Linked DNA regions of Homo sapiens. The protein of the gene in region 1 interacts with the protein of each later gene in a biochemical or structural test. Each region holds a gene or a part of one and is shown in the gene's direction. Other genes may lie near its edges.

The links.
Region 2: the proteins of NOSIP (region 1) and KPNB1 form a complex in vitro, tested with the Homo sapiens proteins (one study listed by BioGRID).

Annotation. Positions count from the first base shown.
Region 1 is NC_000019.10:49,556,519-49,560,534, reverse strand, and holds part of NOSIP (nitric oxide synthase-interacting protein), read left to right. Parts: intron 1-495; coding exon 496-601; intron 602-630; exon of another isoform or gene 631-1,100; intron 1,101-1,185; exon of another isoform or gene 1,186-1,556; coding exon 1,557-1,638; intron 1,639-3,285; coding exon 3,286-3,445; coding exon of another isoform or gene 3,446-3,454; intron 3,455-3,541; coding exon 3,542-3,660; intron 3,661-3,798; coding exon 3,799-3,986; intron 3,987-4,016. UniProt on the Homo sapiens protein: E3 ubiquitin-protein ligase that is essential for proper development of the forebrain, the eye, and the face. Catalyzes monoubiquitination of serine/threonine-protein phosphatase 2A (PP2A) catalytic subunit PPP2CA/PPP2CB.
Region 2 is NC_000017.11:47,680,919-47,683,461, forward strand, and holds part of KPNB1 (importin subunit beta-1), read left to right. Parts: intron 1-1,485; coding exon 1,486-1,486; 3' UTR 1,487-2,543.

The DNA of each region.
Region 1 (4,016 bases):
CCCTGTCTCTCTCCCGCCCCCGATATACACTGATGGCCATGACCATGTAAACAACAGCTGGGTGATCCCATGACCCCATGTGGCCCGGCACTGTGTTCTCTGCCTTCTGCGCATGAACTCACTCCTCCCAACAGAGTGTCAGGGAGGGTGCTCTTGTTACCCCATGTTCCAGAGGAAGAAACTGAGGCCCAAAGAGGGACAGGCACTTGAGCTTGGTCACAGTCAGAAGGGTGGAGGGGAGTCAGCCGTCAGCCCCTCCACCAAGCTGCCACTCAGTGACCAGGCCTGTCTGCCTCTCACCCTCCAGGGTTGACAACTCCCTGTGGGTTCAGCCCGTGGCCCCAGCACACAGGCAGCGGCTCCCAACTGCCTGTTTCTCTCTGAGTCCCCCACCCCCACCACCGCGTTGTCTCTGTGCCTCTCTCTGGGGCTTTGGAGACGGACATGTCTCCTGTTGCTCCGCCCCTCCATCACTCTGCCCATCTCTGTCCCCAGCGGCCTCGGGCTATGGGACCCAGAACATTCGACTGAGCCGGGATGCCGTGAAGGACTTCGACTGCTGTTGTCTCTCCCTGCAGCCTTGCCACGATCCTGTTGTCACGTGAGCTGGGAACAGGGATGGGTAGGTCTGGGTGGGGAGAGCAAGGGAACCGCCAGGAGGAGGCTGTGTGCGTGGGTCTGGCCACCTGCACAGCCAGGGAACCCTGGATGAGCAGTTTATCCTCAGAGCCTCTGTATTCTCACATGGGACATGGGCATGATCCTAGCATCTGTTTCATAGTGTGGAACATATGGAAAGGAACATACTTCTAATGGGGTGTAGGGCTCTCAGAGCATTGCCGAGGCCATCGGAGCAGCTCACCTTTGGACACTTCCCATGACCTACCTCTGATGGTAGGGCAAAGGCTTAACAGGTGCTGAGTCCAGGCACTAAATACGTGCTCAATTAGTGGTATATTTTGTAGAAGACAGTAATTAATGATCAGGGCCCCCAAGGCCACCTTCAGGTTTCTTTTTTTTTTTTGAGACAGAGTCTTCACTTTGTTGCCCAGGCTGGAGTGCAATGGGGACATCTTGGCTCACTGATATCCCAGGCTCAGGTGATCCTCCTGCCTCAGCCCCCACGAGTAGCTGGAACCACGGGTGTGCACTACCACACCTGGCGTTTTTGTTTGTTTTTTGTAGAGAGGGGAGCTCACTTTGTTGCCCAGGCTGGTCTCGAACTCGTGGCTGCAACAATATGTGGCACACATTGTTGCTGAGAGAATGAAGCACTTTCCCTGCAGCTCTATTGGGAGAGGACAGCTGGAAGCTCAAATCTAGTCTCTACTAGATTCTGCCCCATGTGCCTTTTTCCTTTGCTGATTTTAATCTGCATCCTTTCACTGCAGTAAACTATCACCATGAGTATAACAGCTTTGCTGAGTTCTGTGAATTCTAGCAAATAATTGAACTTGGGACTGATCATGATGACTTCTGCCTATAATCCCAGCACTTCGGGAGGCCGAGGCGGGAGGATCACTTTCTTTCTTTCTCATTGCACCCTGTCTTTGCAGCCCAGATGGCTACCTGTATGAGCGTGAGGCCATCCTGGAGTACATTCTGCACCAGAAGAAGGAGATTGCCCGGCAGATGAAGGTGATGGGGATGGGGAGGAGGCGGCACACGGAGGCAGGAGCTTTTGAGTCTGAGCTCACAGGCAGAGCCACTCAGAGCCCTCTGATCTCAGTTCCCTCTGCCTGGTACACCATTCCCCTCCCCTGCTTCCGGCCAAATCCTTCTCACCGATTTCAGCCCAGATGCTGCCTCCTCTGAGCTCCTGCCAGTCCCCAGGATCTGCCCCAGTCACCTCTTCTCTTAGCACTTAGCATAGTTGTAGCTGTACATGTGGCTGTCTGACACATGCCCACTTTCCCTTATGGACTTCGAGTTTTCCCACCCTGTAGCTTAGGTCCTTAGTAAAGATATGCTAAATGGGTCGGGGGTGGTGGCTCACACCTGTAATCCCAGGACTTTGGGAGGCCGAGGCAGGCGGATCACTTGAGGTCAACAGTTAGAGGCCAGCCTGGCCAACATGGTGAAACCCTGTCTGTACTAAAAATAAAAAAATAAAAAAAAAAATTGAGCCGGGCATGGCGGGCGCCTGTAATCCCAGCTACTCAGGAAGCTGAGGCAGGAGAATCGCTTGAACCCATGAGGTAGAGGTCGCAGTGAGCTGAGATGGCACCGCTGCACTTCAGCCTGGGTAACCGAGCGAGATTCTGTTTCAAAAAAAAAAAAAAAAAAAAAGATGTGCTACGTGAATTGACATCACCTCATTTTTTCTGGGCCTCAGTTTCATCGTCTGTAAAACGGGCTGACGGCCAAATCAGAGGACACAGCAGGGCACCTGGGAGGTACACGCAGATGAGCATTCTCAAGGCGTGTTACTGGGAACCCGGCCTGGCCTTCCATGGACAAAGCCATTTGATGGGTAGGAGGGGCCCTGTTTGAGGCACAGTGGGTCTGTCCCCCTCTTCCCCTGCCTGGTTGCTGGCGCTCAGGAAACACTACAGGTCACATGCTTATTGGGCTTTTTGTCCCAAGCAGGTGGCTCCCCCTGTGCCCATGTCCTCCACACAGCCTGGTGGTCATGTCGGAGGCCCTCATGAGCATCCATCACTGTCACTGTTACCTCCTCACTCAGCTGGGTGGCCCAGGGTGGTCTGGAACTGCAGCACCGCCCAGGCAACTGCTGTGCGCCAGGCAGGGCTGAGCTCAGGTCATGGCTTCACTTCTCCCGTCCTCACTCACTGTCCGTCCATAGACATGGGCTCCTCAGCATTCCCTTAGATCTGAAGTCTACATCCCCCGTCCCAAACACGGGCTGGGGCATGCACTGTATAGAAAACTTAATTGGCCAGCAGGTGACATTAATTAAATGCTTAGCTGAGTGCCAGGTGAGGCTCTCCATGCTGTAAACACTCACCTTATGTAACCCTTCAGTGAGCCGCTGAGGTGGGTAACCACTGTTAGGCTGTTTTACAGATGAAGAAACTGAGGCCAGGAGAGGTCATAGTGCTCACTTAGGCCACAGAGTGACAGAGATGGGCTTTGAGCCCTGGCAGTCTGGCTATACAACGCAGTAAGGTTCACACCCACCCAGGGTGGCAGTTACCACCCTCTGCCACATAGTGCCTCCATCAGAGGGTCCCCTTTGTGGGCCTCAGTTTACCTACCTGTGAAATGGGAGGAAGATACCCCCAGCCCCACGGGCAGATGCTCAGCCCACTTTCCCCGACGCAGGCCTACGAGAAGCAGCGGGGCACCCGGCGCGAGGAGCAGAAGGAGCTTCAGCGGGCGGCCTCGCAGGACCATGTGCGGGGCTTCCTGGAGAAGGAGTCGGCTATCGTGAGCCGGCCCCTCAACCCTTTCACAGCCAAGGCCCTCTCGGGCACCAGCCCAGGTGACTCAGGTTGGGCTTCTTGTGGGTTGGGGGGCGGGGCGCCGCGGGCTGGGCGGGCCCAGGGGGCGGCATCTGAGTCCCTTCCTTCCCCCACAGATGATGTCCAACCTGGGCCCAGTGTGGGTCCTCCAAGTAAGGACAAGGACAAAGTGCTGCCCAGCTTCTGGATCCCGTCGCTGACGCCCGAAGCCAAGGCCACCAAGCTGGAGAAGCCGGTGAGCCCCCACAGCGCCCCGGCACGCACGGTGCCAGGGCGCCAGGGTTCCCCACCGTCCTCCTCACGCACAGGGACCACGCGCTCTCCACCTGCGCCAGCCCTGCCTACTGAGCCCGCCTCTCTCTGCCCCTTGCAGTCCCGCACGGTGACCTGCCCCATGTCAGGGAAGCCCCTGCGCATGTCGGACCTGACGCCCGTGCACTTCACACCGCTAGACAGCTCCGTGGACCGCGTGGGGCTCATCACCCGCAGCGAGCGCTACGTGTGTGCCGTGACCCGCGACAGCCTGAGCAACGCCACCCCCTGCGCTGTGCTGCGGCCCTCGTGAGTCACCTGGGAGGGGAGGGAAGGGAC
Region 2 (2,543 bases), on another chromosome or scaffold:
AAAATCATCAGTAATGCCATTTCCCCCTAATTCTCTTCTGTTTTCTATTCCTTTCCTCATGCCCTATTCTTTCTTTACAGCAGTGCTTTTAGACGTTGCCTAGCTCTAGAGAAGATTTCCAAAGTCAAATGTTTTTTTGTGTGTGTGTGTGTGTGTGTGTGTTTTCTTTTTGAGACAGAGTCTCACTGTCGCCCAGGCTGGAGTGCAATGGCACAATCTCGGTTCACTGCAACTGCTGCCTCCTGGGTTTGAGCAATTCTCCTGTCTCAGCCTCCCGAGTAGCTGGGATTACAGTCACATGCCACCACACCCGACTAATTTTCTTTTTTTCTTTTCTTTTCTTCTTCTTTTTTTTTTTTTTTTTCTTTTGGAGACAGTCTCGCTCTGTCGCCCAGGCTGGAGTGCAGTGGTGCGATCTCAGCTTATTGCAACCTCTGCCTCCCGGGTTCAAGCAGTTCTCTGCCTCAGCCTCCTGAGTAGCTAGGATTACAGGTGCCCTACCACCACCACACCTGGCTAATTTTTTTGTATTTTTAGTAGAAACAGGATTTCACCATCTTGGCCAGGCTGGTCTTGACCTCCTGACCTCGTGATCCACCCACCTCGGCCTCCCAAAGTACTGGGATTACAGGCGTAAGCTACCATGCCTGGCCCAGTTTTTGTATTTTTAGTAAAGATGGGGTTTCACCATGTTTGCCAGGCTGGTCTTGAACTCCTGATTTTAGGTGATCCACCCACCTCAGCCTCCTAAATTGCTGGAATTATAGGTTTTTTTTTTTTTTTTTTTTTTTTTGTATTTTTAGTAGAGATGGGTTTTCACCATGTTGGCCAGACTGGTCCTGACCTCAGGTGATCCACCTTTGTCGGTCTCCCAGGTGTGCACCACCACACCAGGCCTTGGCTCCTACTTTGAAATGCAATCTTGTTTGTTTGGAGACAGAGTCTCCTCTGTCACCCAGGCTGGAGTGCAGTGGTACAATCACACCTCATAGAAGCCTCCAGCTCCTGGGCTTAAGTGGCCCTCCTGCCTCAGCCTCCCAGGTGGTTGGGACTGCAGGCAAGCACCTCCATGACTGGCTAATTTTTTTTTATTTTTAGAGACAAGATCTCCTGTTGCCCAGGCTGGGTTTGAACTCCTGACCTCAAGAAGTTCTCCCTCCTTGGCCTCCCAAAGTGCTGAGATTAAAGGCTTGAGCCACTGCACCCAGACTGAAATACAGTTTTAATTTCTTTCACTCTTAATTAGTTATCTTACTCCACAGATCTCAGTAAAATTGGCTCTTTGAGTTTCCCTCGCACCCTCTGATGTAGGTGTTAATAAGAGCAGGTCAATGGCACATAGGACAAGAAGAAAGAGTGTCAATCCTTGAAATGTTGACAAATTCCATTCAGGCCTAGGAGCATGTAATTGTAGGAGTCAGCATTATTGGCTCTGTTGGGTATATGTGATCTCAAAGATTGACCTTTTTTTCCATCTGTTTTCAGATCTGTTACCATTGGGATGATAACCTGAGGACCCCCACTGGAAATCTCCCATCTTTTGAAAAACCTGGAAGTGAGGAGTGTGCACGGATGCTGAATGTTTGGGAATGAGAGGATGAGTGAGTGAGGCTTGAAAACACACCACATTGAAAATCCTGCCACAGCAGCAGCCGCAGCCGCCAACAGCAGCGCTGTTAGTGAGCTAAGTAAGCACTGACTTCGTAGAAAACCATAACATCGGCCATCTTGGAAAAGAGAAAAACAATGGAGTTACTTATTTAAAAAAAAAGAAAGAAAGTTATCTCTTCCCAGGAGAGGCTAGAAGTAGCTTTTCTGTCTTTTGGCCAGTGCCGAGTGGAATGCCTGGTTTGGGGGAGGAGGAGGGACTGGGTTCAGCTGTGGTGCTTTGTTGTAAAAGGCAGCCTGGCCTTTGCTACTGAGGAGAAAGATGGAGCCTGGGTCTCAAGCCCACCTTCGCTGTACCTTTGCCACATGGTACTGTATGCTTGCCAGCTAGAAGGAGGGTCAGGGATTTTTTACAGTCTGAGAATGAGTGTGTGTGAGTGAGGCGGTATCCACATTCTCAACTTCAAGTCATTGCAGTTTCTTTTTCCCAGAAAACAAGGGGTTAGATGTTGCATTTCATAAAACTAACCGAAGTTTTGTTTACTGATGCAGCACAAGAGATGTAAAAAAAAAAAAAAAAAAAAAAAAAAAAACACACACACAGAGGAAAGACGCTCTTTAGGTTTTGTTTTGTTTTTTTTTTTTGGTTTTGTTTTTTGTTTTTTTTACTCTAGGGAAAACACTGACGAATGGTCAGAGCTCCTATCCTGATCTTTTCATCAAGGCGCCTTTCCTAATAATATGGTTCAACTGTGAATGTAGAAGTGGGGGGGAGGGGGGAGAAAAAGAAAACTCTGGCGTTAGAGGATATAGAAAAATATAAGTACAATTGTTACAAATAACGCAGACTTCAAAAACAAAAAAATCACAACCCAAACAAACCAAAATTTAAATGATCAGAATTGGCAGCACAAAGAAAACGCCCTCTCCTGACT